6 separate regions of the Homo sapiens genome follow, and all the other regions are reported to be linked to region 2. Evidence: microRNA targets listed by miRTarBase, many of them from high-throughput screens and not tested one by one. Region 2 holds a microRNA gene; each other region holds the end of a gene's coding sequence.
What was found. The annotated mature microRNA hsa-miR-5006-3p reads UUUCCCUUUCCAUCCUGGCAG and lies in region 2 at 2,867-2,887, opposite strand. An mRNA with a match to its seed (bases 2 to 7 or 8) in the 3' UTR can be bound and repressed. Matches are read on the target gene's strand: a 7mer-m8 pairs with bases 2 to 8, a 7mer-A1 pairs with bases 2 to 7 and ends in A, and an 8mer does both.

Region 1 (5,000 bases), not on the chromosome of region 2:
AAATGCCTGCCTGGCAGTCACTCACTGCCCATTGGATCAGATTATTTGGCATTTACTTACCAAAACGCCACCATATAACTGTATTCTCAGGTGGCAAAACCCAGAGTCAAACAAGATGTGGTCATCTACTCATAGTGAAAAACAAAACTTTTACAAAGTTGACAGATAACATTTATTAAAACATGTCATACAAAAGGGCATGATCTCTTCTATAAGAAGAAAATATTAAACATTAACATTCAATTAAGTAAAACCATGCTGTACACTGAAGACAGCAATATATAAAGACAAAACTATTCAACTTTTGCAACATAGGCATAACATTTCACAAAATATCAATAAGATATGCACCTAATGATAATCTGTTTATCATCAAATGGTTTTGTGGCCTAAGAGTCACCTGACTTGCATAAATAAAGTACTTTTCTGGACGAAACATTGGGAACCTCACAAAAGGAAAGAAGGCAGCAGCAACTAACATGACACAGGCTTCAAGCAAAAATTAAAAAAAAAAAAAAAAGTCACATTTGCAAAATGTGTTCCAGCATCTCCCCATAGGGCACTATCAGTAGAGATTTGAAATAAGAAACTTGTACCTTTAAATATGTAAGTAGCAAAGAAAAAAACCCCAAACAAACCCTGGTTTCACTGAACAAAAGTTAGTCACCCACTAAAGCAACCTAAATCACAAAACTGGTGGCACAGGAGGGATTGGGGATAACACAGTGCTGGTTTCCAGCACCCCTAAATTATCAGAGACCTTCCAAAAGCAAAAACCTGGACTCGTTGTGATGGCGCCCTCTCCACGCCCACCCAGGAGGCCGCAGCACATCCCCTTCCCCAGGGAAAGCACAGCTTTGCAGCTTCTGCTCCGTCTCAAATTCACTCCACAGCAGCTTGGGGGTGTGTGAGCCTCTCAAGGAGGGAGCCCTGGAGGCTAAGCAGCTTTCCCCGGTGGTTAGAAGCCAGCCTTAGGGGCAGGTTAGTTCAGCAAATGCCCACTAGAATGGAGGGGATCCCTTTGGGCAAGCTTTTAAAGTAGTGGCCAAAAGGGACCAGAGGAAGATGAGACCTAGAAATCGGAATCAACAGGCTGGGGGCCTGGAGCGCCTGCAGGCAACCTACAGCCCTGCAGGGTAAGTTACCGCAGTCCTTCCTTAGTTAACGGTGACATGCACTTCACCACGTGGATTACTGTAACGTGTGTATCTAAAGGTAAAAGCATGGCATAAGTATGAATTTTTTTTTTTTTTTTGAGACAGAGTCTCGATCTGTCGCGCAGGCTGGAGTGTGGTGGTGCAATCGCGGCTCACTGCAACCTCCGCCTCCCAGGTTCAAGTGATTCTCCTGCCTCCGCCTCCCGAGTAGCTGGGATTACAGGTGTGCGCCACCACGCCTGGCTAATTTTTGTATTTTTAGTAGAGATGGGGTTTCACTATGTTGGTCAGGCTGGTCACAAACTCCTGACCTCAGGTGATCCACCCATCTCGGCCTCCCAAAGTGCTGGGATTACAGGCGTGAGCCACCATGCCTGGCCCCAAGTATGAATATTAAATACCACTGGTGGTGCCTTGAAGCCCTTTCCCATGGGGATTGAAGAAAAACCACAGTTAAGACTCAAAGTAGGGGACAAATAGCTTGGTTGTAGGCCATTGACGTGATCCCTGAAAGATTGTTTGAACAATGTTACCCACAACCATCCAAACTTATTAGGAAGGATAAAGATTTTCTAAAGCTATATTGAGGTGAAGAGAAGAGACTATTCCTCCAACTCAACGTGGGGATGAAAAAAAGGTAAAAACCAGAGTTTACAAAAATTCACTTTTAATATTCAAATGAAAGCAACCCCCTTCTCCTGCCTCTCTGAACATGGCCAGCATTTCAGACACCCTACCACCTCCCAGGCTCTGGCTGCCTGATAAAAAAATCCCAATTTTTGCCAAAACCTCAAATACCACAAAACACTAAAAGAACAGATGTGAGCAACTTATTTAAGTTCTACATTTAGTAGCTGATGGACACATAAGGCTTTCAAGAAGACACTCTTCTCTTCACAACATATTAAATAAGTCCTAGCACAACTGACTGCTTCCAAAACTACCACCCAAGCGTGCCACCACTCTTGGCTGAACAGAAACTCTTCCTCATGACAAGGGCACTATGCTGATTTCAGCAGAACTGAAGGACCACGACTCTCCCAGAATATCTGTATTTTTACCTCTCAGACTTCTCCTGCAATGTCCTAATGATCATGTAAATAGTCTTCAATGAGAAACAGGACATCAAACCTTCCAAACAGGCAGAAAATGCTCTGCTAATACCATGGGAGAGGGTGATCAGTTTTTGGCAGAACAAAATGGCATCACCACCTTAGTACTGAAATTAGTAGGAGTAATAGAACAATTTCTCCTCAAATATAATGGCTAGGATCATACCTAAAACCCACTGGCCTCTACCATGAGTGAAAGAAAAGGAGACAATAGGCTTGATTGTACAATCCCCTCAGTATACGTGTGTCAGGTACACAGAGAAAAGACTGCTAACCAGTAACGTTTCAATACTAAGAGAAGCTATTAATGTGGCAAACAACCAAGAGGTAATATCTAGTTTCTAGGTTTAAAAAAAAACAATATATATATATATTTATAATAAAGTTTTAAATACAAAGTGCTTTTTATATATCGAGAATGATACAGTGTTGTGAATAAATCCCTGTTTGTAATCTTGCTTACAAGAGTTAACTGGTAAATAAGTATTTTCTTTCCTCTTTCCAGACAATGTTCAACAAGTAAACACCCTGGTGTTAGGAGCTTGAGAATCAGAGGCCATTGCCAGCAATGTCTATTACATTACAGCAAAGCCAAACTTTTCAAATAAAATTTCACCCCAAATCCAAGAAAAATTATTTTTATTTTAAGAAAAAAAAGTTTCTATTTAGAAGTAAATAACCCAGTACGATTGTGGAAAAGATGACATGGTAGTAGCACCCTGTCCTACCCTGGTGATAACCTCAGGTATGTTACACAGCTTAAAAGCATGTGCAATATTACCTTTCTTTTTAACCTAAATCATCTAACTGATGGGCAGAAAAGGTCTCAGAATAGTTGCTTTTCTTGTTTGTTTTTTTAATTTTTTTTTTCTGGTCGGCGTAGCTTTGTGGACTTTTAAGTTTAAGCAGCTTTATCTATAATGTGGGAGCATGGTTCTGTAGACTACCTTGCTAAACTTAGGACTCCTTTTACAAACACATTCCAGTGCTCATAAAGAACTGGTAGTATTAGCTCAGTGTACCCTCTAAAGAGTATCTCCCCCACCTTGAAAGAGTGTATTCTCAAGATTCTTCTTGGGCAGTTTTGTCCCCCTTAAGTATAACCACTCATAGAATCCTGCCTATCTGCCCTCTCACTCTGGTTGGTGGAGTGTCACCTTAGCACTCTATGAACTACTCAAGTTCACAGGGAACTCTCAGCCACAACTTGTGGCTCCTTCTCACTAAGTGTGGTCATGGACCACTCTCTTTGTAAAGCACCATAATCTAAGACAGAGCAGGGGCTGTGGCAGCCCGTGGTACCGTGGTCAGTCACAGCAGCTTGGTGTCTACCAGCCACAGAGAAGACCCCACTGTATGGAGGCTACAATTAACCAAACAGGATTTGGGAAAGCAAACCAATGAGAAATACCTATCTCTGGCACCCTAGAGAATTACAATTAGATAAAATTGTCCAAACTCAATGTTAGAACTAAAATACAAAACACTGCCTTATCAAGAGTCTGAAACACCTTGTGACAGTAGTGGCATCTTACAGAAACTGACAAGGGCACTATGTCAGCCTTGTACCGTAAATTATCTGTTTCATATTTAGAAAGTCACTCTCTTAGCATCTCCATAGTTTTAGTTAAAATATCCTTTAGAAAGACTAAAACCAGACAACAGAGCTCTGTTAACCAATTTCTCATCCTAGGAATCACATTATTTCTAGCTTTTATATAAGTAGCACTTCCTTCAGTGAAATAGCTACCAAAACAAATCCACATTACCTAAGTATCTATAGCAAGAGCAAAATAAAATTTCAGCATGACCTTGTAATAATGAGTGATCCAAAGCTGCTGCCACCCAAAATGGAACTGGTGGGTGGAGTCCAGTTCCAAGTGCAGGTGTCTCTGTCCACCTGTTTCGATCACAACCAGTCAGAAGGTTTCCCTTGCCAGCTGGGCGGTGGGTTAACTCACCCCATTACCCATTCCAGGCCAGGACTGGAACACACAAATTTGAGGAATTAGATTTTTTTAATTGGCCTACTTAGAGCTGGTCTTTCAGAAATATCTTCCTTTTTTTTTTTAAGCTTCTCTCATAATAGCAAGTAGCACGCATCATCTGTGCCCAGATTTGCATTAATTACCATAGTTTATTTTTGTGCATGCCACTCAAGGGCCAGATCCTATTTTTAGTTAGCCTCAGTTGTATTCTGCTCAGCCTTTGCAGCTTCGTAGGACTTAGTACAAGAAGTCACATGCCGGTGGAAACTGTCCCTCCACATAAACCTCTTTGCACAGATATTACACTCATACGGCTTTATGCCTGTGTGAATTTTCATGTGGCCCACGAGATGGTGCTTCATTTTGAATTTCTTACCGCAGACCCCACAGCCGTAAGGCCGAAGACCGAGGTGCATGCTCATGTGCCGATCTCTCTGACTCTTGTGAGTGAAACTTTTCCCACACTGACAAGGATACAGCTTGTCAGTGGCTGAGAATCCTAAGTGGGAAGCTTCTTCTTTAATCCCTGTTACCATTTCAATATTCTCACTGTAACCTGCTGCGAGGGCAGCCTCCTGTCTGTGCCCAATTAGATTCCCATCTGACCTCTCTCCGGAAAACTCTTCCATGGAAGAGCCATAGAAATCCACCTGCTCATCATAATTGCTTTCATCAGCCTGTTCATCAAACTCAGCTTCCACTTTCTTCTCCCCGATGTGGAAGTCCTCCTCCACTCCCGAAGG
Region 2 (5,104 bases):
GCCTCCCCATCTGTGATGAGGTCATTTTGTCGGGCACACAGAGGATTCTAGGGGGAATATGCATCATATACTGCAGCTATTCACGGCATTCATTCCTCCTGGCTGCTCATGGGTAACAATGAACCTTCTCAGCATTACATGTGCTTACTAAGGAGACAGGGGTTAGATGCCTTTCAGTGGAACCCCCCGAGGCACACAATGCATTTATTATAATGTCTTGGCCCTAAGAAGGGCCTGGGAACAGCTTGGAGTGGTCTATAATTAAGTACATTTAATAATAAATGCACATACTTCTTAGGTATTGCAAGAAGTGAAAATAAGCTCTTCGTCTTCTCAGTCTCAATTCCCTTTCCCCATCATCCTTCCCCTTCACAAATCAGAAAAGCCAGGAGTACTGTGCTTTTTTAAAAATAGCAATTGCAGAGGATGTCTGGCTGGTCGAGAAAGGTAAATTAAATTACTTGAGAACATTCTTTCCATGTCAAAAAAAATGGCTTCTGCCTCCTCAGGTAGTTACGCATGGGGAGGATTTGCTAAAGGTTGGCTGTTCCTTTAATCTCCCTTGGATTCCACTTCCAAAGGCTTTCAGGGGCAGTGACCCGCTAGCTAAGGGGCATCCCTTGGGGTTAAGCTGCCACTTGGAAGGGCACTTCCTCAGATTGCTGCTGTGCCTAGCAAGGAAGCAGCAGTTAGAAGTGTTCCCCCGACAGTGTCCCATGTCCTCGGTCCCCACACCTCTGAGTGCTCGAATATGGGCAGATAGATAGACTTTCTGAGGAAAGGGAGAGGAAGAGAGCCCTGTGAATGTGGACAGGGTACAAGAAGAGAAGTCACACTGGAAGGAAGAGAAAAAGGCAGCAGGAGTGTGACATGTACATTTGTGAGATGCAGCAAGGGGCGTGGGACTGCGAGGGACGCAAAGGCATTAAGGGGCCTGGAGGCTGGAGGCCCAGCTTTGCCCCTGCCTGGCTGTGAGTGTGGCCTATTTTCTTGAACTTCTCTAAGCCTCAGTTTCTTTACTTGTAAAATGAGGATGTTAATGGTACCATGAATAGTTAGTGAAAGGTCTAGTAACAGGAATCTTGGGAAAGTGACTTAAATTCTCTGAGCCTCACTTTCTTTATCATCTGCAAAATAAGGTAAAAAATACCCCTGTTACATGCATTGTTGTAAGGATGAATGAAATAATGTATGCAATCACTTAGCATATACCTGGTTCACAGTAAATCATCAGTAAATGCTAGCTGCTGTTGTGGCGACCGTTGGAATGCAATTACATTTTTAAAGATACATGTTGGATTGAAATTGTTTGCATCATTGAATGGTTCAATACATGGAGCAGGTGTCTCACTAGAGGAACAAGAAAGCCATGCAAACTCACCAGGTAGTACCACGTTGGAAATCAGATTGCTTTTATTTATTTATTTGATAGTTAATGATAGGGAGAGGGGTGATAGAACAAATGGGTATTATCTTTTCTTCTTTCCTATAATTAATTAAAATGAAATTATGGACCTGTACAATTTCAATAGATATGGATGGATAGGATAATATTATTAATAATAGTTTTTCCAACTTAAGACCAGTTTTTTCAACTCACTGGTGCCCTAACGTTTCTGATTTTGCTATCAATCGTGAAGAGGAGTTTTTAAATTATATGGTTAAAGAGAGAATGACTTTTGCTGAAGCATCTTATTTTAAACAAAGTAATATTGAGCTTATTGATAAAATAAAGGTCAGCCCAAGAGTGTGTGGGAATAAGGTACATTTTGAAAGAAAAGAGAATGAGGCTTTAAAAAAAGTTGTTTTCTTTCTTTTTGTTACAGCTAAAAATTTCCAATCACCATTCACTTCAAATATACCACCTTGATTTTACTTTTTTTACTTTGCTTTAGGTAATTTTTATATGAATATTCTCAATAAATAATTTTCGTGTAAGCATTTATTATTTTGAGCATTACAGTTTGGACCCCAAAATGGAGTACTGTGAATTTTTTGAGAGATGCTAGAAGAACAGAAGAAACAGTAAACTTTTAAGGCAAGACATCTTTCTCCTCCCACTCTAGCAGCAAGGAGAAGAGGACATTTGCTCTTTAAGAGCCTTTTAAAAGTCACGTGGAAAGGCAAGCACTCCAAGGATTTTTTGATTCCTTTTGGCTTTGGCCAAGAAAATGAAATTATTGAGAACAGCCAGACTTTCATAAGATATTGCTGTTGGAGGGACTTTTTGGTGGGTTAAATATTATAAAATCATTGTTTTCTGGTCAATACAGAGCAGGGAGAAAATAAAAATAATTGTTGGATAGGAGCATTTTGGTGGGTTTTGCACAGACTTGCATCTTGTGTCAGAATGTGACATCAAAGGCTCAGTTTGATGGGGTCACTTTTCTAACGTGACCAGATGATGTGTTAAGGCAAAAGCAAAGTATTTTCTCCCCCTCAGGTTTTTGGAAATAGACCAAACACATAGTTCTCAAAACCACCTTCCTTTAACCCCAACCTTTGATAAAGTGCAGGTCAACTAGCTTGCCCTAATCACTTCTAAACTCATCAGTGGAGTATCTTTCCATGTTTAAGTCTCCTTCTGGCTGCTTCTCTGAATTCTCATTACGGAGCAAGTGTAGGAAGACCCAGGAATGCCGGAATCATCCAGTCACTGCATGGGTTCACTTCATCCATATCTTCTTTTTTTCAGAATACTCTTTATTCCTGTCTTATTTCAAATCCTGGTGTCATCAGGGTGATGAAGGGCACTTCTTAGACACTCGACAACATGGTGGAGGTGAAGATCTGTTGTAAAATCTGAGGGATATCCTTGGTATCCATGGCAACGAAAGACCGACCAGCTGGTAAAGTTCTCTGAAGCCTGCCAGGATGGAAAGGGAAAGGAAGTTACCACTGTAAATGGGGCTCCCTTCCACCTCCTGCCCTGGCAAACCACAGCCCCCTAATGGTTTCTTAGGAAAGGAAGTTTTTACTTTCTAATACCTTGCTCTCTGCCTACCATTGAATTAGTCGTCATTAAACAATGAAAGGCTTGGAAGAGCAACAAGGAAAGACACAGCAAAAGCAGGGAACTGAAAGAAAGGTCTTTTCAGTGAGAAAGTCAGTGAATTTGAAAAGAAAAAATTTTCTTCCTTTCTTTACTGCCATTTCTTGGTATTTCATATTCTTTTGGTATAACAGAGCCATAGGGATTCATATGGAATCAGCTCACCTCCCGGGTCTAGCAAATATGTTGACCTTACACTGTATTTCGAAGTGCTTTTCCTTCCTTAGAAAACAGGCCTCTAAAAACGCTGCGCAGCCAAACCCTGAGTGGTTCTTTCTCTCTTTCTTTGCCTCTCTCTCTTTTTTTTGGTCCACATCACACAATGTGAAATGCGATCTGGATTGTCCAATTACTGCTTCAATGACACTGAGGTTATACAGGCTTATGAAATTTTTTCCAACTCATTTTTAAGTGAATTTTAAAAAACTTATAATGGGTTTTGATTTGAATTATCCTTAAAAATAACATGTCATTGAAGTTACGATACTTTTTTAAATACTAATTTATAATTTGGAACAAAAGGCCATTTTGAAGGCAACAAAACTGTAAGACACAGTTCTCTTCAAAAGAACGCCTCCTTTCACTGTGCCAGTGAAGTCTGGCTTTGGAATGACATTTAATAAAATTCAACCATCCTGTGTAGTATCGTATATTTGGCATGCCTGGTAAGCCAGCTAATTCTGCAACATATCTTTTGCCAGTGGATGTTGGACCATTTCCCTAGGAAACCACAAGGGTATTATTGTGCTTTCTTAAGTATTCAAACAGGATCTGTTCACTAGAAAGACAAAATAGCCATTTCATCTCAACTAGTATTTGTTGAGCTTGTTGTCTGCCTAATACTGGGCTGATGCTGAGGAAAACCTGGGTGGAAAAGGCATAGTTTGTGTTTGAGGATGTGGAGGTTCTAAAAGATGCAAAGTGCTAACTTGTAAAAACTAAGAAGAATGAAAAGTCATGTCATAAAATGACTGTAACTACATGATATTAAGTCTGTTCTCAACCTCGCTCTGCAACCTTACAGCAAGGCAAAGGGAATAGAAAGAGAAAAAGCTGCTAGCATTTTGGATATTAAAACATTTCCAGTCACAGAGTATGAAAAGTAAAAGGGGTGGAATAACAAAAACGTAGGCCCTTTGTGCTTTAGGCAGGGATTTTTTTTTTTTTTTTTAAGATTACTTTCACTGGTGTTTTATGTTTCTTACAGGTATTTTAAACACAGAAAAACCATGAGCTCTTTCTGTTTGTAATTCAAAAAGATAAATGTTATTGTGTTCAAGTTATGAAAGTGTTTCCAGATCTCTCCTTTCAGATCATACCCACTGGTATTTATTGTCTGATCATAAGATTCTCTATTGAATATTTAGTATATTCAGTGTAGTATCTAACTATATGTATATTATCTTATGTTGTCGCCAAGTGTTTCACCTGCCTTGTCTCTCCAGCAATAAGAAGGGATACATGTGAGTGTGTCTATATATATATACAGGCATGCATATATGTAGGTGATGTCTCTATGGGGATATAATACATATGTGTGTATATATATGTCTAATATGTACAGACATTCATACACACACACTATCTCCTATGCTAGGAAAATAGTAGATGTTCACGATTTTTAATATGATTTGAACACAAAATGATTAGCCTGAGCTTAGGAGCTTGACATAAAGTGCCAAATGTATAAAATACTACCCGGTTTATTAGTGACAAATCAATTTGTCAATGATTTATTAGTGGCTTAAATATAAACTAAAAAATAATTAATTTAAAATTATTATTGTTCATCTAAACAAAAGCTAGAACATATCCCCTCAACTAGATTATAAACCCCTTGAGGCTAGTAACTTTAGTTTCTGTTTTTCCTCCATCTGCCTCACTGTCCCTCATGGTGCTAAGCCTATAAAACAGCATGTGTTAGCTACTCAGTATCTCTGTACCTGCCCTTTTCTGTATGCTCAGATGACACTTACCTGGTTGCTTGATCACCTAAAGAGCCAATAAAAATGGCAAAAGCATTTACTTGAGGGTCTCTTGTGAGGATTTGAG
Region 3 (5,000 bases), not on the chromosome of region 2:
GTGCACGCCTTGCCTCTGTCTCCTTCAGTGCTGATTCTTTCCCCTCCATTCAGTTGTCAGCGCAGTTGCTCTATGGAATGTGTTGGGCAGAAGCCCAGAGTGCATGCTCTGTCCAATAGAAATGGCCACACATCACCCCGTGCCCTAGCCCACTTTGCCCAGATGAAACATGTGCCCAATGATGCCATTTTCCAATTTTCCAAGATTTTCATTGGAAATCTCCCACTTTTAAAATGTTTACCCTATTAGAATAATAAGCATGTGCAGAAGAAAGCACCATCTTGCTACTCCTGCTGTGGCAGTGCTGCTCCCCAGGAATTCACCCTCAGCTGTTTCCTTCTAGGTTAGAGTTTTGTTAGGGCTTCAACTGTCCTCCATACGCATGGATGGATGTGTTCCCAACTCACTCTTGAGCCCCAGAACAATACATTCAATCACCTACTGGGGTCTCCATCTGAATGTACCAGAAGCATGCTCAACTCAAAATGCCCTAGACTGAAGTTGCCATTTTCCTCCTAACACTAACTCTCCTACAATCCCTGCCTTGGTAAATGAGCCCACTGTTTACTTGATGCCCAAGCCAGAAATCTCAACTCTTCACTATTCAGATACAAAATCCTGTGGATTCTAACCAACCTCTCAGCATTTCTATCTACCCAAGGAACTGCCTCTCCGTGCATGAAGCCATTATCTTCAGGCTGGAGCAGGACAATGACCTCTAGTCCTTCCTCTTCACTCCACATTTCCACCAGAATGTGCTAACACAGTTCTGATTATGCCATACTCCCTTTTCATGCAACCATTCCAAAAACATATTCTGTGTGTGACACTGATTCCATGGGATATAAATGGTGTTGTGTGACAAAGAGTTCTATGATGACACAGGTTTACAACCAAAAATTTGAACACAGCTTTAGTATTTTTTGTAGCTTCTTGGAGCCCTGCATGTCTAATGTATATTTTGATTCTCCAAGAGGGCAATACAGCAGTAAGGAGCTTCTCAAACTTATTTGGCCATGTAATTCTTTTGTCATGGGACATTTTAAGGTATCAGTGTTTAATGGTGACAAATATTATTCAATGGCTTTCCATTATCTACAGCACACAATTCAAATTCCTTACTACAGGCCTAAGAACAAGGACTGTGAAGCCAGAGTATCTGGGTTCAAATTATGACTGTGCCATTTGCTTAGCTGTGTGACACTGGACAAATTCTTCTCCATGCCTTTATTTCCGTATCTATGAGGATGACAATACCGTGTGTCATAGGGTCAGTGAAAGGATTAGAGTTACTATTATACTGATAGTCCATTCAAAGTGTGTAAGACACTGCCGGGCTCATCGTATTAGCTATATTCTTATTCATGGTCTTTTATCAGCCGTCTTCTCCATCTTTACCTCCTCTTATAAAGGTAGGTCTACTTGTCTTTTGTGTCCTGGGACTGCATCTCCATCGCTGGTGTTGCTCTTCTCTCTGCCTGACGTTCCTCGCCAGTCCCTCGCCTTTCCTCCTACTGATCTGCACCTGTGAGCTCAAACTTTTCCATGTTTCCCAGGCAGACTTGTGCACTTGCACAGTCAGCAAGTATTTATCAGGTGACCAGGATGTACCTCACATTTCTGCTGGGAGGCAGGCGTGTCATGACATTGAATACCCTGACTCCCTGTACATGCCAGGAAGTGTGACTCTGCGACTTCTCACATCCATCCTTCCCTTCTACACCCAGTCTGCTATAGCCGGTTTTAGCCTCGTCCCCTCATCCCATTCCCCACTAGACCTCAAACTGCTCCAGAGCCTTTCATCTTTGTATCCCCAGAACCTAGAATAGTTTTTGGCACATAATATATGCCCAATAAATATGTGTCAATTGCATACATGAATTTGTCTTGGCCACCGTGCCAAGCTCTCCACTGCCTGCTACGATGTGGGACCAGGTCCTCTCTGGGCCTCAGTTTCTTTAACGGTAGACAAGCAGAGTAAAGGCTGCCTCACTGCGCCCTGAGAGGCTGCATCGCGCACTCTGTGACCTCGCTGTTCCGCCTGGCGCGCGGTGGGAGCCCAGGGCGGTATCCAAATTCTCCGAATTCTTGAAAGTAAGCGGAGAAGACTGCGCAGGATCTGAGCGGGTCACACCCAGGGGGCTGCGTGGGCACCCTGCGGTCCCCTGCCCGCCCGCCGGCCCCGCACTCACGCTGCGCGTTGCAGTTGCCTCAGCAAGTACGCGACCCGGGCTCGGGCGGCAGCGGCCATGGCGCTTGGAGTCCTCTTCCCTCCTCGGGTCGCTACACCGCCCCCTCCGCCGGCCAATCACGGAGGCTGCCCGCCTCCCGCCCCTCGGCCGCGCCTGCCCACCCGCTTCGCGGGGTCACCTGTCTAAGCCTCAAGCCAGTCGGGCTCAGGGCCATTTTCCCACGGAGTAAGAACCAGAACGCCAGCTGCCCCAGCGGCGCTCGCACCATCCACCCTTGAAATTGCCGTAGAAGGTAACTGCTCCGTAGGCCTCGGGTTCTGCCTTAAATCTCCTTACTTATCAACTCTATTTTTCACATGTTGAGGACTTGGGGGAAGGAAGAGGAACAGGGATATTCTTTTTCCACTGTTAATCCTTTAAAATGTTACTTTCCCTTCTAAGAGTATTTTAAGTGATCAAGACCCTGCCTTTAAACTGTTTTAACAGTAAACAAGAACCTAGCAGAGCCCGAGGGTTTTTGTTAAATACTGTGTGAATGGCTTTGCTTTTGATGAAAGCAAAATCAATAGTTAAAACTCTTACATCAATAGTTAAAACTTGCCATGATTAGACTATGCTCCGGGAGGGCTTGGCTGTGCCATATCTGCCATGTCCCAGTGGAAAAGCTGATTAACGATAAAGCTCAACTTTATCAGAAAGTATCCAAAGACAGTAACAACTAAACATTTGCATTTTTAGTAATCTGTTATTATGAAATCTGAATCCTTTATGGGAGATATTAAGTTTTACAGAAATGAATTTACTGCGATCAAACTGGAAAAGATTGATGGACAGGAAGACCAAGGACAGCTATATAAACATTTCACCTCCTAATCAAACCAGCTCAGGCCAACTTGACAAATGAATCAAAAAATAATGTTCTATGAGAACACATGTACACAGGGAGGGGAACAACACACATTGGGGCCTGGGGGCAGGGGATAGAAGGGGGCAGAGGGACTTAATACTTAGGTGATGGGTTGATAGGTGCAGCAAGCCACCACAGCACACGTTTACCTATGTAACAAACATGCACATCCTGCACATCTACTCCGGAACTTAAAAAAAGATAATAATGTCCTAATTAAGGATCTTATGGGTCTGTTTCTTTCTTCCCCCAAACAAAACTATACCTGACGTCAAGCTTAAAAACAAACACACACACACAAACAACTGGGGATATAAACGTAGAGAAAGATTTAAGTGTTTTCTGGATTAATGAGGATTATTACCATTAGTCAATGAAGCCCAAATTGATCATTTACAGGAAATCCATGTGTTCAGTGTTGAAAGGCATAAAATCTTTTTAAAAAACAGACATCAGTTTTACTACTTTGAATATTATATTTGATACCAAAAGAAGTATAAGTTTAGAAGTGGTATCACTGAAACCATTATAATTGAACTGCTTTTTTTTTTTGAGATGGCCCCTTCCTCTGTTGCCCAGGCTGGAGTGGAGTGCAGTGGCGTGATCTGGGCTCACTGCAACCTCCGCCTCCCAGGTTCAAACGATACTCCTGCCTCAGCCTCCCAAGTAGCTGGGACTACAGGTACCAGCCACCGTGTCTGGCTAATTTTTTTATTTTTAGTAGAGATGGGGTTTCACTGTGTTGGCCAGGCTGGTCGCGAACTCCTGACCTCAGGTGATCCGCCCGCCCCGGCCTCCCAAAGTACTGGGACTCTACAGGAGTGAGCCACTGCGCACGGCCTGCTTTGTGTTTTTCAGAAAGTAAACAAAAATAATCTGTACCAGGTATCCAGGTAACCGGCTTCAAGTACAATTTCTACCCAGTAGTCAGAAAGTTAAAAGTCACACTAGATAAGACATCTTTATTACTTAATCTTTAAAACAGTCACTTGCCTATTCAATTCTGAAACTGTTTGTTTTCTTTCCCTCCCCCGCACTCCCGCTCTGATACACAAACTTGTTGTAAAAATAATGCAGAAACATATACGTCAATCTAAGTCTCTGAAATATGGCCAACTCTACCTCGCCGTATATCCAACATTAAAAAGAAAAAAAAAGGCTGTTTAAGAATAGAACTCATTCCCGGTTTCCACCAAATTATTTCCCTAATTCTTAAATCCTCAAATAAGTTCTTAATCTCCAAAGTCTCGGTTGTGGGAAAAACATTAATTTGTGCAGTCCAACACTTACATACTTTCTTGACGGAAGGGCAATCCTGTCCCTTTAAACTCAATGAAGGCAGCGGCCAGGTCCTTCTGAGTCCCCGTATAATTGCCTAGAACTTAACATTTAGTATTCATAGTCCTTGGTTTACAGACGGGTCCGACAGTTAGAAACTATTACTTCCTCCTCTTTCCTCCTGGGCGCTGTCCTCCTTTTCTCTTGCCACCCAAGCCAGGCGGCCCAGAATTCATCTTGCCTCCCAAGCCCCCTTTCCTCTTCCCTCCCTGGCTGGGCGGGCCCCCTTTCCTCTTGCCCCCAGGCCCCTGCCGGCCTCCCTTTCTCTTGCCCTTCTGGCTCATTTTCCTCCTCTTGGCGGCCTCCTCCTGGTCCTCCTCCCTCATCTGCTTATTGGTGGCCCTAGTCACATCCAGCTGAGGCTTCTTGCTGTTCATGACACGAAGCAGCTCCAACTGGTTCTTTTTCTCGGCTGCAAAGTCCCCGAAAAGGGGTTGAAACTTCCTTTTCTTGCCGGAGCCCCGGGGCACCTTCTCCTTGGGGAGGCGCTCCTGAAAGCGCCCCACAGAGGCGGTGGAGACCTTGGCCACTTGCATGGCGCGGCCCAGCTCCTCCTTACTCTG
Region 4 (5,108 bases), not on the chromosome of region 2:
GAGGTGGCTCAGGGGGGAATGAAGGCGCAAGAACATGGCGGGCCCCAAAGCCGACGTTGTTTCGGCGTTTCCAGCGGACCAGCCAGCCGATGCTGGGCACGAAGTCCTGGCCCATGATATCGGCCAGCTCCTTGGCTTTGTGGAGCAGCATGGGCCCCGTCACGTCCCAGGCCTTGGCCCGGGCAATGTGGTACCAGCAGAGCAGAGCCTCGTCGATCCCGCTGTACTTGGACTCCCGCTTGCGCTTGCGCTCTCGGTTGGCTGTGCCGCTGCACCAGTCCGCCAGCAGCTTCTCCTTATTCTTGCAGATGCGCGAGATCTGGGGCTGGGAAACCTGGAAGCGCCGGGCCACCTCCGACTGGGACATCTTGGACTCATCCAGGAGTTCCAGCACCTGGATCTTCTCGGCCAGGGACAGGGCGTGAAGCTTCTTCTTGCTGCTCAGCTCCATGGCCTCTCCGGGGCACCTGTGCGGGGAGGAAAGATTGAGCGGGTAGAGTAATCTGAGGCCGGAAGAGCTAGGAAAGGAGCGCAGGAGGGAAAAGAGATTAGATGAGGACTTGCGCAGGCACCGGGTGAGACTGGACCCGCTGAAAGAGGAAGTGGCTAGGCCGAGTGGAAGCCGGCTGGCCCCGTCCCCAGGATGCCAGGGCAGAGCTGGGGAGGGGGCGTCTCTCCACTCAGAAGGACAGGGGAGTCTGGGCTGGGGTCTGGCCTCACTCGGGAAGAAGGATGAAAAGTGCAGGGGACAGCTGCAGAGATAACAAAGGCATACGGACGGGGGAGGGCCTGGGACTGGGGCCGAGGGGGCAGGTGTGGGGCTACGGGGCTGCGGGGGAGGAGCCCCCGGGAGGGAGTGGGAGGCGGCTTGGGCTGGATTCAGATGACGCCGCTGGGGGGTGGGAGGTGGGTGGATGCACACAGAGTTGAGGTGACAGGTGTACAGACGACAAAGGGGACAGAGGGTGTCTGAAGGAGCGAGGCTAATTTGGTGCCGGGTCCTGAGAGGGAGGCTAGGCGACGGTCAGTCCTGAGGGGAGCGAGAGGGCAGGGCCGAGGGCGCAGGTGCACGAGCGACAAAGGGCGGGAGGCCTGAGGAGGCTGCGGGCAGCGGAGGGGCGGGGTGTCCCCGCGGGGAGGGTGGTGGCCTGGGAGGGTCCCAGGGCGCGGGAACGAACGCCCGGACCCAGGCAGGCCGGCAGCCGGACTCCGTGCCCTGGCCGGTCACTCCCCCTCGACCCGGAGTATGTCGGCGGGGCGGCCCCAGGCGCCCGCCCGCCCGGCCTCCCGCTCCGCACCCACCTCAGGCGCTGGTCCCGCGGCTCCAGCCCCTGCCCCCAGCCCGGCTCCCGAGCCCCTGTCCGGGCGGCGACAGCAGAACAGGGGAGGGATGGGCGCCACGACCCCGAGGGCAGAGCGGACCGAGGGCCTGCGCGGACGGCGGGCGGGCGGGCGCGCGCACAGCAGAGTCCCGTGCGCGCCGCCCGCGCCGGGCTCTCTCCCGGCTGCGAAGTCCGCGGTGCGGCCCCTCTGCACCCACCCGCCGCAGCCCCGCCCCGGCCCAAGCAGATTGGTCCTCAGTGGCGCCCCGTCCCTCCCCCGGCTAAGTTTCATTGGACGTTGCGGAAGTGGCGGTTCGTCGAGCCCCTCTGGGGGCGGGGCTTCTAGCGCGGAGGGGCGGGAGGCGGAGCCAGGAACCAGCAGGACTCCCCTGGGCGCCTCCAGCAGCCGCCGACCCCGAGGGCCCGACGAGCCCTGTAGGTGGTGTGGTGACCGCCGAGCTGACTTGGCGTCCCAAAGCCTCCCTGGCCGTGACCCTAGACCGCATCGGCTTCTTCGTCTACCAAGCAGGGCTAACAGCCCTCACGGAATTGTTTTGGGAAAACGATGAAAGGAGAAAATGGATGCAAGCTTTAAGCCACACAAAAGCTGGTTACCATGGACAGCGCTGGCTCGAGTCTGTCGGCCACGGAAACACTGCATGCTTGGGCCAGTAATGATTTAGGACGAGTATTTTATTAGATTTGGTACTTTACAAGATTCAAGTTCTTAAACTCAAGATCTGGCATCGTTCCCTTCCCTGCTAACCTTCAGTCCCGAATTAAACGCAGACGTCTTGACCCGCAGCCCAGCTGCTCTCCAGCCTCGCTGCTCCCTCCGCTCACAGCTCCGCATCCTCTGCCTTCCTCACAGGCTTCCGTCCGCACCCCCGTCCTACCGGCTGACACTGTCCAACTCTCCAAGACCCATCTCAAATCCTACCTCCCGCAAACCCTTCCTAAATTTCCTCACCTAGGCCTGCTACAGCGTTCTTATTTTCCACATTTCTTTTCTGGCTCTCGGACTACTCAGCTGCCAAAGCGCATCCATTGCTGTACTCCCTCTCTGCCTGGCCTACTTCAGTGGAAAAGCATGAGGACGGGCTGCGCTCTGCTCCTCACACAATCCCCAGCCCAGAGCACCCTGCTTATTTATTGAACATAACAGTGCAGGCCGGCCTAGGCTTCCCATAGGCAAGGATGACTTTCAGAATGTTCTAGAAAAAAGGATACTTCAGGGGGCCCATAACTGCTTGATTCAAATCTTTCCTTTAAAAACATAAAAACAACAGTTGGACTTCTAAAACACACACTGAAGACATACGCGCTGCCACGTAAGCTCTCCACATGTTCACTTTGCCTTCAGGGAAACTGTGTGCACATCAACGTGCCCTGGGAAAGGCTGCAGGGCTGCACTGCGGGCAGTTCAGATCCTAGAGCACTTGCTCTGGCCTGGGAGCGCTGCAGGCAACTGAAGCCACACAGACCCTGCTCCTGCAAGAACTTTTGTGTGTGTCCCATGGTGATGTCATTAGTTTGCTTATTAATTATATTTATATAAACTTCTGGTCCTGTTTTAAATGTCTGAGATTGCAAGGTCAACTGTTATAAACCTGTCATCACTTCCATCTATGTATCCAAGACTAGGAGAATTCTCCAAATCAACTGAAACATAAAAATAGATGTTAAAGTTGATTTTAACCCAAATTTTGTATTGATCAAAACAGCTTCATTGTTCTTTATAACAAAGAATTGTTATAAACTTGAATTTATGTAACAAAACAAAATAACCAATTTTATATTCGCTTTACATATTGGGGTTCCACAAAAAAATTTTAATTTGGGGGGAAAAAAGCTGTATTTCAAAACATTAAAAAAAAAAACCACCATCATGGAAATCTTAGGATGAAATGGCCTTCTTAATGGAGAAAGGCAGGAGATAAACCATCCAGCAGAGGGCTCTGTGTAAAAACATTTATTTTTACTAATGTTTAGAATACAGGAACTAAAGAAAGAAAAAAAAAAGACACCTCAACTCCAAAGCGACAGTGAGTTAGGGCCTGCCCACGGCCAAGGGGGAAGGCTACTCCAGGGTGTCCTGGCATGGACTGTCCCCCCACTACTTAATGTCAGTGCCACTAAGCAGAAAACTTGAGGAATCAGGGTGTGAAGACCTTACCAGCTGCTAGCGAGCGTGCAAGGGAAGAAAGGGATGTCTATGTGGCTTCCCCATGAGCTGAGAGCCAGGATACACGGGGCAGGTGGCAGAGGCTCCCAATTCAGTTAAGAGCAGGAGGCTGAATGCCCAGGTCCAGGAAGAACAAAAAGGGGATTTTGGAGGTAGGCTTTTTTGTTGTGTTAAAAAACAGGCACATTATCCATCTCCTTGTGGCCCCCGAGCTGCTGGCCTGGCCCCCTGATCCTTCCCCTCTCCCCACAAAACCAAAAGGAGTAGGAAGGGAGGCAGAAGATGAGAAATTCCAAGGGTGGGGAATGCTTCAGTCACTGGAGACCGACCGTAAGAGTGAGCCAGGAGAGCAATGGGAATAACAAGGTGAAGCTACTGTTCCCCCTGGGGTGGGGTGGAATGGGACAGGGCAGAACCAGGAGGGTGACCGAGAACATCCTGACTCCAGAAAAGAACACTCTGTAGCAGGAACACAGGGCCGCAGAGAGCCACTCTGGAGGAAAGAGGTGAGGCTATGCGGCACAGGGGCATGAAAAGCTCCTTGTGGACGTGGCCTCAGCTTGCTCGCTCCCAGCTCCCTGGCCTGGCTTGCCTCTAGAGGACAGGAAAACTCTGGAGACCAGAGGGGAGGCAGAACACAGAGAAGTGAGCTGCTCTCCCACTCTTTCTAGGAGGACACTGTTTGAACCCTGTGATCACCAGGGGCTGGGCCCAAGGCAAGCAGAGTGAATGCACTTAATGGAGAGCAGAGAGAAACTGGGCCACACGCACGCCTAGGGGCAGTGTGTTGCTCCTTTCTCCCTGAGGGCCTGGGGCCAGAGGTGGTCAGAGCTGCCACCTCAGCTTGCAGCTGCCAAAGGCAGGCTGGCACAACCACCCCAAGGTTCTCTGGATTTGTGAAGGAGAGGAGGAAGAAGGGAAAGATGGGTATGAAATATGAAGTGGAGGAGAGAAACAGCCTTAGATATGTCGGGGAGCAGGTGGGTGGCCACATCAAGAGGAGTTCTGGTTCTGGTAGATGGAAGCTTTCTCTTTCAACAGGTCCAGACACAGGTGGCAGCTCCAACTTCCTGCAGAGAGGCAAAATGGGGTCAGGATGGGTCCCACACAATCCCCACCTGCTTGCAATTCCTCTGCTCTTGATACCCCATCTCTATAGCAGGATCAGCTACAGGTAGGACGAGGGATGCTCTGCAGCAGGAAAGTTCCATGGTTTCCTGAGCTGGGATAAACCTCTAAGTCTTCAAATATTATGAAATATCATCCTCTATGGAGATGAAAGAAATAATCATCTAGAGGACTTCAGAATACTGATGCCCAGGCCCTCTTGGCCCTATTAAATCAGAAGTTTTGGGAGTAGGAAGAGGGCCTGGGAAGACAGAAGTTTGTCAAGCACCTCAGTTTTAAGACTTGTGTAGTTTCACTAAAAAACACAAAATAATTGTCCCTTATATGAAAAACAATTGGGTCATTCCTTGTTTATTAATATTGACTATGGCTGAATTCTTCTAATTTTTTTTGAATAAAATTAGTCCTTAATGCCTTGAAATGATAAGCAAAATTATACCTATGCGCATTTGGACATTATTCTAGGGCTTTTA
Region 5 (5,104 bases), not on the chromosome of region 2:
CAAGAAGACCGTCATCAACTGCAGCATCTCCGACGACAAATCAGAATATCTGTTTAAGTTTAACAGCTCCTTTGAAATCCACGATGACACAGAAGTGCTGATGTGGATGGGCATGACTTTTGGGCTAGAGTCCGGGAGCTGCTCTGCCGAAGACCTTAAAATGGCCAGAAATTTGGTCCCAAAGGCTCTGGAGCCGTACGTGACAGAAATGGCTCAGGGAACTTTTGGAGGTGTGTTCACGACGGCAGGTTCCAGGTCTAATGGCACGTGGCTTTCTGCCAGTGACCTGACCAACATTGCGATTGGGATGCTGGCCACAAGCTCCGGTGGATCTCAGTACAGTGGCTCCAGGGTGGAGACCCCAGCAGTCGAGGAGGAAGAGGAGGAGGACAACAACGATGACGACCTCAGTGAGAATGACGAGGATGACTGACGTCCTCTCGCCTTAAGATTCAGCTTCAGGAAAACATTTAGGGAAAAGAAACTTTTTTTTTTTTTTTAATGTGAGGTTTTCTGTTTCTTTTTTGCCTACTCCCAAGAAGATATTGGTAAGCTATAGAATTTAGATATGCACCTCTGATAAGCAAGGATTGTTTCCCGTATGATTAAGACGTGCTGTTGATGTGTGTTTTGATACCAGTGTGCTGACACAGAATCTTTATTTACTTTTTAGGATTTTGTGTTTTCATTTTCTATTTTTCTTTAAATGCAGAGTTCATTGTTGCCCCTTAACAGTTTTTCCTGAGTTTACTGAAGAAATTGTACTTCATCCACATCCATGAAAATAAAATGCTCTCCTTTTGTGCACAGTGAGTACCGAATGCCGTTTATTTGCCTTGGATTTGGATGGCACCCCCACTGATGCATAGCAAGACTCTTGAGTTTTCCATTTGTTCAGTTTTGCAGTGTCCAGAGCCCCAAGCAAACGGCAGAATTCTATTTTCAGAACAATAAACACCATCAATCTTAAAAAAAAAGAGGTAGGGCCTTTAAGAGGTGATTAGGCCATAAGGGCTGTGCCCTCATCAATGGATTAATGCTGTTATAATAGGAATAGACTCTTGATAGAAGGATAATTTCAACCCTGTTCCTCTGTCTTGAATGCTTGCTTGCCATTCTGCCATGTTAGGACACAGCAGGAAGGTCTTCACTAGGTGCCAAGCATATGCTGGCACCATGGCTTTGGACTTCTCAGGCTCCAGAACCATAAGCCAAATAAATCTATTTTTCTTTATAAATTACCCAGTCTGTTATAGGAGCAGAAAACGAACTAAGACAGGATGGCTGAAGGCTCCTAGCCGGCAATCAATGCACATCTATCTATGCAGGAATCATTTGCTGACTGGAAGCAAGATGAGTAGGTTTTCCTTTTTCAAATTGGTGAGATAGAACAGCAGTGGAGCCTATAGCAGTGTCATGGTATGGTGAGAAGAAACTGGGTTAGAACCTAGGTAGGGAGATCTTGACTCATTAATATGAGAAAGTTGTACCAAAAGTGTGGCTGGGGACAGCAGAGGGAGCTGTTGCTTTCTTCAAGCACAGTTTCACAAAGGGTCATCTTTCCAACCATATGCAGACCTGTCCAGAGTTCCAAGAAAAAATAGACACTAGGATAATCACTGTGAAAGCAAGACCGTAAGACCCATTAAGAGAGGGCAGGTAGTTAATTACAATGAGATACCACTTCACACCCATTAGGATGGCTATTATGATTATTATTTTGAGATAAGGTCTCTATTGCCCAGGCCTGCAGTGCAGTGGAAAGATCATGGCTCACTGCAGCCTCAACGTTCCAGGCTCAATCAATCCTCCCACCTTAGCCTCCCGAGTAGCTGGGACTACAGCTACTCCACACCTAGCTAATTTTTTTTTTTTTGGTATTTTTTGTAGAGTTGGGGTTTCACCATGTTGCCCAGGCTGGTGTCGAGCCCCTGGGCTCAAGCAATCCACCTACCTCAGCGTCCAAAAGTGTTGAAATTACAGGTGTGAGCCACCACACGTGGTCATGACTGACTTCTTTTACTTAGCAAAATGTTTCCAAGGTTCATCCATCTTGTAGCATGGATCAGTACTTCATTCCTTTTTATGGGTAACATTCCATTGTATGGATAGATAGACTTTTTGTTTATCCAGTCATCTCTTGATGGCCAGTTGGGTTGTTTCTGCCTTTCGGCTATTGCGAGTAACAGTGCAGTGAACATTAGTATGCAAATATCTGTTCAAGTCTCTGCTTTCAATTCTCTTGAGTATGTGTGTATCTGGGAGTGGAATTACTGGGTCATATGGTAACACTATATTAAGCCTTTTGAGGAACCACCAGGCAGGTTTCCACAGAAGCTGTGAAACTCCCACCAGCAACATACAAGACATCTAAGACATGGTTTCGAGTAGTCTTGGGAGTAGAGAAGACACTACCAAGGTCACCTGTGTATAGTGATGGCACTGGCTGGTCCCTGTTTTTTGGGGGATCGGTTCCCTTGTGTCCTGTCTGAATACTTTTCCAAACCATGCTGCAAAACACGTGCCTTTTTTTCCCCCCATCAAGCCTTAACATAGTTGCCCCACTTTGGAAGGCTTTCAGCTCCTAAAAATTTCTGAGGAACGTTGGATCACTGAGAGGGCTGCTCCTCACCTCCAAGGGACATGTCACATAGCTCCACCTGCACTGCTTGTCAGATGTGGACTCCATGAAGGGGTGGGCACTGCCATAGCCAGTGTTCAGCCTTTGCCCTGCCTTCCCCTTGGCGCTGGCACCTAGAACATCCGAATGAACAGTCTCCTAAGGTCTGGAGCAAAGCCTTCCCAGCCAAGTGCAGCCAGCAGCCCCAGACAGTACCTCCTTTTGCCTTCTGGCCTCCTAATGTGCTTTGCATTAAAATATCCATTTTGGCTTTGCCTTTGAGTCAATTCTCAGGGGAGCAAGTAAAAGCTGAGCCATGAACATGTGGCCCATGGAGATGTAGTAGACAGAGAAATGACTGCAGTTCATTCCAGTCAGGCCCTTTTGGCGTTTTTCCCACACACCAGCAATGCCTAGGACTGACGTGTCCTTGTCTGAGCTCCGCCACTAACTGGAGGTACAATTTCAGCAAATCCCTTCTCTTCTCTCAGTCTCAGTTTCCCCATCTAATAAATGGGCAGGGAATCTCCAGGAGACACTTCCAACTCTAAATATTCTATTACTAACATTCAAGCAGAGCCTGACTCTAAGAAGCACAATCGGCATCCTTTCTGTGCGATAGAATGATAGTCAATGCTTTGGAAGATATTTGCTTTCCTGGCGAAAATGGTATGAAATAAATTTCTTTTATAATGATTCTGGTCTCAAGCCCTCCAAAACCCAGCTCCACTCTTGAAATGTTATAGGATAAGTTTTTATTTGCAGAATTTGAGTGTGACCTTTGCTGAGGCAGAACATGGTTTTGGGGGAGGGGGAGAGGCAAATGGAGGTGGGAAATACTGGATTGTGATTAACCAGATAATGAACCCCACCTGCTTTTAATCAGCCACTTCCTGTTCTCCCAGACCTCTAAACTTTTAATATTAATGGAAACAGATTTGAATTCTGGAAAGAGCTATTCTGGAAAATAATTGGATATTTACTAGGTGAAAAGTGAAATTGCACAGGCATTTCATAGGGTTTGGTATTTGACAGGTGCCATTTTTTCTTTCCAATGTGTTGCATACCTCTGTTTTATAAACCAATATGGATAGTGGTATAAAAGATTACGGGTTTACATGGTGGCAAGGCCTGGGAACATGTTCAGGGGGGTTGGTGGGCAGGAAGAGAGAACTTCAATTGGGGACAAGGCTGAAATGATTTGATTAGTAGGAAAAAAATATTTGAAGGCAAAGAATATTTCTTTAAAAGAAATATACCCATGTTCATAAATGGAGATTGCACAGAGAGAGAGAGAGAGAGAGAGATTGGCTTACCTGTGGAAGTCTGACTGCATACAAGAAGGTAACGCCTCCCTTGGCTTCTTAAAGAACTTTGTAGTTAGAGAAGGCAGGAAGGCACTGGAAGAGAGTGGGGAGATTTTATTAAAACAAAGCACAGAGCTCTCCAGGGTTGCAGGCAAGCAGAACAAATGGAAAGCAGATCTGCCAGAAAGCAAAGGAGGGCTGCTCCAGTGGGGTGACTCAGGCCCTTTGGGTTCTTTCCCTTGAGCGTCTCTCACTTCAGTCATTACTACTGTGATCATTAGGATTCCCCGCGTGTTTCCTCTTTAATGGTCTGGCCCTAGTGTGGACAGAGCCCCACCTTTTTTATTGAGATGGGGTTTTGCTCTGTCATTCAGGCAGGGGTGCAGTGGCACAATCATAGCTCACTGCAGCCTCGACCTCCTGGGCTCCAGCAATCCTCCCGCCTAGCCTCCAGAGTAGCTGGGACTGCAGGGACACACCATCACTCCCAGCTTTTTTTTTTTTATTTTGTACAGATTTATGTTGCCCAGGCTCAAGCGATCCTTCTGCCTCGGCCTCTCAAAGTGCTGGGCCTCTCAAAGTGTGAGCCACCACACCTGGCCAACAGAGCACATTTTAGGGGGATTCCTTCAGAGACAGCTGAAACTGGCTGTCCCTCTGCCCCTCTCTCCTTCCCCCCCTCCCCCCCCTCTTCCCCTCTCCCCCTCTCCCCGCCTCCCCCTCTTCCCCTCTCCCTGTCTTCCCTCTCCCATCTCTCCCGCCTCACTCTTGTCACCCAGGCTGGAGTGCAGTGGCGCGATCTCGGCTCACTGCAACTTAGCCTCCCAGGTTCAAGTGATTCTTGTACCTCAGCCTCCTGAGTAGCTGGGATTACAGGTATGCACCACCACACCAAGCTATTGTTTGTGTTTTTAGTAGAGACAGGGTTTTCACAATGTTGGCCAGGCTGGTCTTGAACTCCTGACCTCAAGTAATCTACCCACCTCAGCCTCCTGAAGTGCTTGGATTACAGATGCGCACTACCACTCCTGGCTAATTTGTGTGTGTGCATGTATTTTTGAATAGAGATGGGGTTTTACCATGTTGACCAGGCTTATCTCAAACTCCTGACCTTAAGTGACCTGCCTGCCTCAGCCTCCCAAAGTGCTTGGATTACAGGTGTGAGTCACTGTGCCCG
Region 6 (5,108 bases), not on the chromosome of region 2:
GCTATGGACTCAGGCAGCCAAGCACCTGGGACCCACCCATCCCAAATACCTCCCTGCTGAAGCATGACCGTGGTTTCCGGGGTACTGAAGCATGACTGTGGGGCTGGTTTCCAGGGTACTGGGCAGTGCACTGGGTGCTTCTGAAGTCTACTTATCCAAGAGAGTGCAGCTGTCTCCCACAGAAACCTTCACATGGGCTAGCTTGTCAGAAGGCTAGAGAACCCTCTGGAGAGAGACGGAGTGATCTAGAGAATAAGCCCCCTGAGGGAAACTGGGAGGTCCCAGATCCCTTGGCGGGGTCTGGGCAGCATTCTTTGGTTTTCACAGTTTCCTGGGGGTGGTCCTCAGGAAAAATGCAGTGTCTAGGGCTGGGGCCCGTTCCTGCAACTCTTGTGGGAAGAACAAGTACAATATCAGCTTGGCTTTCAGATCTTCAAGGTTTGATTTATGCCTTCTTCACCCTTCTTGTTGCCCTCAGGTAGCAGATGATGGCTATGGAGTTTCCTACATGATTGCAGGCGAGAACACGATCTTCTTCCACATCTCCAGCAAGTTCTCAAGCTCAGAGACGGTGAGTCTCCTGCCACAGCTCAGGCCTGAGGAAGGGGTGCCACCTGGGGCTGCCCAGGAACACAGGTGTCTTTGGCTGGGGAGGCATCCTTGCTTGTGGGAACAGAGGGGTGGGTACATATCTGAAGGTGCATCTGAACTCTTGGCTCCCACAGAACGCCCAGCGCTTTGGAAACCACATCCGCAAAGCCCTGCTGGACATTGCTGATCTTTTCCAAGTTCCCAAGGCCTACAGCTGAAGGTTGGAGAAATGCCAGCTGCCCTTTCGTCCCCACACTGTGGAGGAAGGGACCTGTGGCAGCTCACAGGCATGAGGGGTGGCCGTGCACAGGTGCCCAGGCTCCAAGGACAGCTCCGGCAGCAGGTCCTCGCTGGGCAGATGCTGCTCCCTGAGGGCCCAGGTGGTGGAGGTGGGGTTGGAGCAGGAAGGGAATTTTGATTTTTTTTTTTCTTGATAGATACTAATAAAAATAAGGCTGTGTAATTTTCTCTCAGCCCTTAGGTACCTGTGTTTTGTTTGGGAACTCGGAGGCCCTCCCCCTCCCCCAGCTCAGACCACAGAGGTGGCAAGAGAAGGGCTGAAGCTGGAAGACTGTTCATGAGGGACTTGTGTGACCTGCTTTGAAATGTGTGACTCTGCTGAGTGACGTAGGCTCTGAGATAGCTGTCCACGCCCACGTGTTTGCTTGGAATAAATACTTGCCTCAGAACCTTCACCTGTTCCCTGGGGCCATTTCTGTTTGTCTGTCTGCTGGAGAGTGAGCCCACCTCCTCCCATGCAGGGGCATGTGTGAGGCACCCCTCTTGGCTGAGGCACAACCCTGCACGGGCCCCGCAGCTTCTTGTCAGCATGGAAAGGGGCTGCAGGCCCAGGCCTGAAGTCTTGAGGCGCCAGGTGGTCATGTCTGCAAGAGGGCACGCAGGATGACCTGTAGCAACAGACACTCCTTCACTGAGGTTGGCTCGGCTGCTAAAATCATGTTAAGAGTAAATACAAAATAATTATTCTTTGTTTTTAAGGCGGAGTTTCGCTCTTGTTGCCCAGGCTGGAGTGCAGTGGCACGATCTCGACTCACTACAACCTCTGCCTCCTGGGTTCAAGCGATTCTCGTACCTCAGCTCCTGAGTAGCTGGGACAACAGGCGCCCGCCATCACGCCCGGCTAATTTTTTGTATTTTTAGTAGAGGCAGGGTTTTACCATGTTGGCCAGGCTGGTCTCGAATTCCTGACCTCAGGTGATCCACCTGCCTCAGCCTCCCAACGTGCAGGGATTATAGGTGTGAGCCACCGCACCCAGCCATAAAAAATAATTTTTATGAAAAGTATAAGTAGGCCCTCAATTACTGTAATTGAAGTGAATTAGATTCAGTTCTGGACCTTCATTTAGGAACCAGTGTCTTCATCTGTTTTTGTTTTTTTCTTTTTTTTCCCATGAGATAGGGTCTCACTATGTTGCCCAGGCTGGTCTCGAACTCCTGAGCTTAAGTGATCCTCCCACCTCGACTTTCCAAAGTGCTAGGATTTCAGGCGTGAGCCACCGTGCCCGGCCAGGAACCAGTGTCTGTTGAACACCCACCATAGACTTGGCCCTGTGCTGGGGATTCAGTGGTAAACAAGGTCCTATTCCTGCCCATGTCGAATTCACTGCTGGGTGAGGCAGGTGTGGTCAGGGGACAGAGCAGCTGGCAGGAAACCAGGAGGCTTTTGGGATAATCCACTTACCAAGTACAGGCATGGGTTGCTTAATGAAGGGGATACATTCTGAGAAGTGCATTGTTAGGCGATTTTGTTGTGCAAAGATTCTAGAGTGCATTTACACAAAGGTAGATGGTGCAGCCTACTACAGACCTGGGCTATGCTGCTTACCCTGTTGCTCCTAGGCCGCATGCCTTTACAACATGTTACCATACTGAATACTGTAGGCAACTGTAATACAATGGGAAGTCTTTGTGTATCTAAACTTGTCTAAACATAGAAAAGGTATAGTAAAAATGTTATATAAAAGATTAAAAATGGCACCCTTATGGCCAGGTGCAGTGGCTCACGCCTGTGATCCCAGCACCTTGGGAGGCCGAGGCAGGTGGATCACGAGGTCAGAAGATCGAGACCATCCTGGCTAACACGGTGAAACAGTGTCTCTACTAAACAAAATACAAAAACTAGCCAGGCATGGTGGCGGGCGCCCGTAGTCCTAGCTGCTTGGGAGGCTGAGGCAGGAGGATGGCGTGAACCCAGGAGGCGGAGCTTGCACTGAGCCAAGATGGCACCACTGCACTCCAGCCTGGGCAACAGAGCGAGACTCCGTCTCAAAAAAAAAAAAAATGGTACCCTTATATAAGACACTTATAAGACACCATGGGCTGGGCGCAGTGGCTCACGCTTGTAATCTCAGCACTTTGGGAGGCCAAGGCAGGTGGATCACAAGGTCAGGAGATCAAGACCACGGTGAAACCCTGTCTCTACTAAAAATACAAAAAATTAGCCAGGTGTGGTGGTGGGTGCTTGTAGTCCCAGCTACTGGGAGAGGCTGAGGCAGGAGAATGGCGTGAACCTGGGAGGTGGAGCTTGCAGTGAGCCAAGATCGCGCCACTGCACTCCAGCCTGGGCGACAGAGCAAGACTCCGTCTCAAAAAAAAAAAAAGAGGAAAAGTAAGTGGAGAGACAAAAGGAGAGGTGGGTGGCAATTTCAGACAGTGGCAAAAGCAAGCCTTCCTGATTGGGGTCCTTTGACCACAGGCCTGAAGGAGACGAGGAGCAAGTCATGTCCCTCATGTCCCTCATGTTCCGTACCTAAGGGCAGAGTATTCCTGGCTGAAGGAACAGCAAGAGCCAAAGCTTTGCGAGCGGTGTCTGCTGTGATGAAGGATGTGGCTAGTGTGGAGTCAGGGATGGGAAGAGCAAGCGGGGCAGCTAGATCGGGGTAACAAGGGCCTCGTAGGCCAGATTCTGGATTTTCTGAATGACGGGGGAAGCTGTTGGGCTTTGAACAGAGGGTGGCATAATCTGTCCTAATTTTAAGGGATCACTGGCTAACCAGGGTGGCGTTAGAACAAAGTAGGACGCAGTAACAGTGGAAGCAAGGAGACCCGCTGGAGAAGTGCTCCTGGTGGTGGTGGAGCTGGAAGAAATGAGCGGCTTAAACTAAGGCAGTGCCATAGGAAAGTAGAATTAAGGAGCTTGGAATGTCAAACGTAGGACTGACAAGTCTAATCAGGAGGAATCAAAGATAACTCATATTTTCTATATTGGGTGATTGGGTGATTAAATTAGGTCTTTAAATGTTGAATTTGACTTGCCTATAAGAAATAGCTGTGAAAATGTCTCAGACTCTTGAAAATATAAATGAAAAGCTAAGGAGAGATCTAGGCTCCTTCTAACAGTTTTGAAGACAGTTAAAACCTTGAAAGTGCATGAGAGGATTCCCAGGGCAGAGGCTCCTCACCTCCTTCAAGTCTTCATGAGCTATAAGAGTATGCCTCTTGGGGCCGGGCGCGGTGGCTCACACCTGTAATCCCAGCACTTTGGGAGGCCGAGGCGGGCAGATCACGAGGTCAGGAGATCGAGACCATCCTGGCTAATACAGCAAAACCCTGCCTCTACTAAAAATACAAAAATTAGCCGGGTGTGGTGGCACGTGCCTGTAGTCCCAGCTACTCAGGAGGCTGAGGCAGGAGAATCGCTTGAACCCAGGAGATGGAGGTTGCAGTGAGCTAAGATGGTGCCACTGTACTCCAGCCTGGGAGACCGAGACTCTGTCTCAAAAAAAAAAAAAAAAAAAGAGTACACCTCTGCCTGCAAAATGTTACATTCCATATCAGAGCGTTCTTCAGCTTCCAAAAGTATTTCCAGAGACCTCTACCTGTTTGGGTGCCAGTAAGCCTCCCCTGGGAAGGTGCCTGCGTTTTGGTAGTCTTCTGGGGACATCAGCTCACCCCGTCCTGAGATAGCAGTAAACAGAGTTTCCAACAAGCTAGCTTTCAATTAACATCAAAATTCAGCATTAAAGTTCTTTTATCTCATTTGTTCTGGGTTAAAATAGTGAGATGAGGAACAACAGTGGTAAACCAGGGTATAAACCTCTGGAGACTGCTGGGCATGGTAGCTCACGCCTGTAATGCCTGTGCTTTGGGAGGTCTTGAGCCCAGGAGTTCGAGACCAGCCTGGGTGGTGCAGTGAGACCCCATCTCTACAAAATTAAAAAAAAAAAATTAGCCAGGCGTGGTGGCACTTGCCTGTGGCCCCAGCTACTCTGGAGGCTGAGTTGGGAGGATTACTTGAGCCTGAGAGATTGAGGCTGCAGTGAGCCATGATTGACCCACTGCATTCCAGCCTAGGTGACAGAGCAACACCCTGTCTTAAAAAAATAAATAAACCTCTGATGACAACCCAAACCCCAATTAGTTCCCCATGTCCCATAGGTCTGCAGGTCTGCATTAATAAAAGCTAGCAGCCATAACATAAATCCTGAAACCTCATGGCTCAACCCAATAGAAGCTGGACTGTTGGTCAGATAAAATCCAGTTGGCTGAGATGAGGG

Region 1: miRTarBase lists ZBTB43 as a target of hsa-miR-5006-3p. Seed matches in the 3' UTR shown: 8mer at 4,197-4,204.
Region 3: the mRNA of RRS1 is a reported target of hsa-miR-5006-3p. Seed matches in the 3' UTR shown: 7mer-A1 at 4,300-4,306 and 7mer-A1 at 4,121-4,127.
Region 4: the mRNA of DPF2 is a reported target of hsa-miR-5006-3p. Seed matches in the 3' UTR shown: 7mer-m8 at 2,072-2,078.
Region 5: the mRNA of TFDP3 is a reported target of hsa-miR-5006-3p. Seed matches in the 3' UTR shown: 7mer-A1 at 473-479.
Region 6: miRTarBase lists CPT1B as a target of hsa-miR-5006-3p. The part of its 3' UTR that is shown has no 7-base or 8-base seed match.

The regions. Positions count from the first base shown.
Region 1 is chr9:126,833,359-126,838,358 of GRCh38, reverse strand. It overlaps ZBTB43 (zinc finger and BTB domain containing 43), which reads right to left. Exons shown (of 3, transcript NM_014007.4): 3 at 149-5,000. The coding sequence ends at 4,446. Among named protein-coding and RNA genes, the nearest start is that of ZBTB34, 25 kb to the left of the region's middle. RefSeq lists an enhancer at 4,652-5,000.
Region 2 is chr13:41,565,440-41,570,543 of GRCh38, forward strand. MIR5006 (microRNA 5006) reads right to left here and starts at 2,956; the gene lies at 2,847-2,956. It overlaps VWA8 (von Willebrand factor A domain containing 8), which reads right to left. Exons shown (of 45, transcript NM_015058.2): 44 at 5,029-5,104; 45 at 1,396-2,866. The coding sequence ends at 2,758.
Region 3 is chr8:66,429,768-66,434,767 of GRCh38, reverse strand. It overlaps RRS1 (regulator of ribosome synthesis 1), which reads right to left. Exons shown (of 1, transcript NM_015169.4): 1 at 4,035-5,000. The coding sequence ends at 4,539. ADHFE1 (alcohol dehydrogenase iron containing 1) reads right to left here and starts at 2,264. Exons shown (of 14, transcript NM_144650.3): 1 at 2,193-2,264. The coding sequence starts at 2,251. It overlaps LOC102724687 (a long non-coding RNA gene), which reads left to right and starts at 2,402. Exons shown (of 5, transcript XR_929013.3): 1 at 2,402-2,484. RefSeq lists a silencer at 2,011-2,430 and an enhancer at 4,187-4,236.
Region 4 is chr11:65,351,152-65,356,259 of GRCh38, reverse strand. DPF2 (double PHD fingers 2) reads right to left here. Exons shown (of 11, transcript NM_006268.5): 11 at 1,998-4,577. The coding sequence ends at 4,501. TIGD3 (tigger transposable element derived 3) reads right to left here and starts at 1,509. Exons shown (of 2, transcript NM_145719.3): 1 at 1,303-1,509; 2 at 1-467. The coding sequence starts at 451. RefSeq lists silencers at 802-991, 1,052-1,221, 1,232-1,291, 1,312-1,631, 1,722-1,781.
Region 5 is chrX:133,212,371-133,217,474 of GRCh38, reverse strand. TFDP3 (transcription factor Dp family member 3) reads left to right here. Exons shown (of 1, transcript NM_016521.3): 1 at 1-813. The coding sequence ends at 433. Among named protein-coding and RNA genes, the nearest start is that of TFDP3, 3.4 kb to the left of the region's middle.
Region 6 is chr22:50,565,039-50,570,146 of GRCh38, reverse strand. CPT1B (carnitine palmitoyltransferase 1B) reads left to right here. Exons shown (of 20, transcript NM_152246.3): 18 at 479-571; 19 at 726-811; 20 at 1,066-1,286. The coding sequence ends at 809. CHKB-CPT1B (CHKB-CPT1B readthrough (NMD candidate)) reads left to right here. Exons shown (of 30, transcript NR_027928.2): 28 at 479-571; 29 at 726-980; 30 at 1,066-1,286. LOC107985568 (a long non-coding RNA gene) reads right to left here. Exons shown (of 2, transcript XR_001755606.3): 2 at 1,004-1,540. Among named protein-coding and RNA genes, the nearest start is that of SYCE3, 4.7 kb to the right of the region's middle.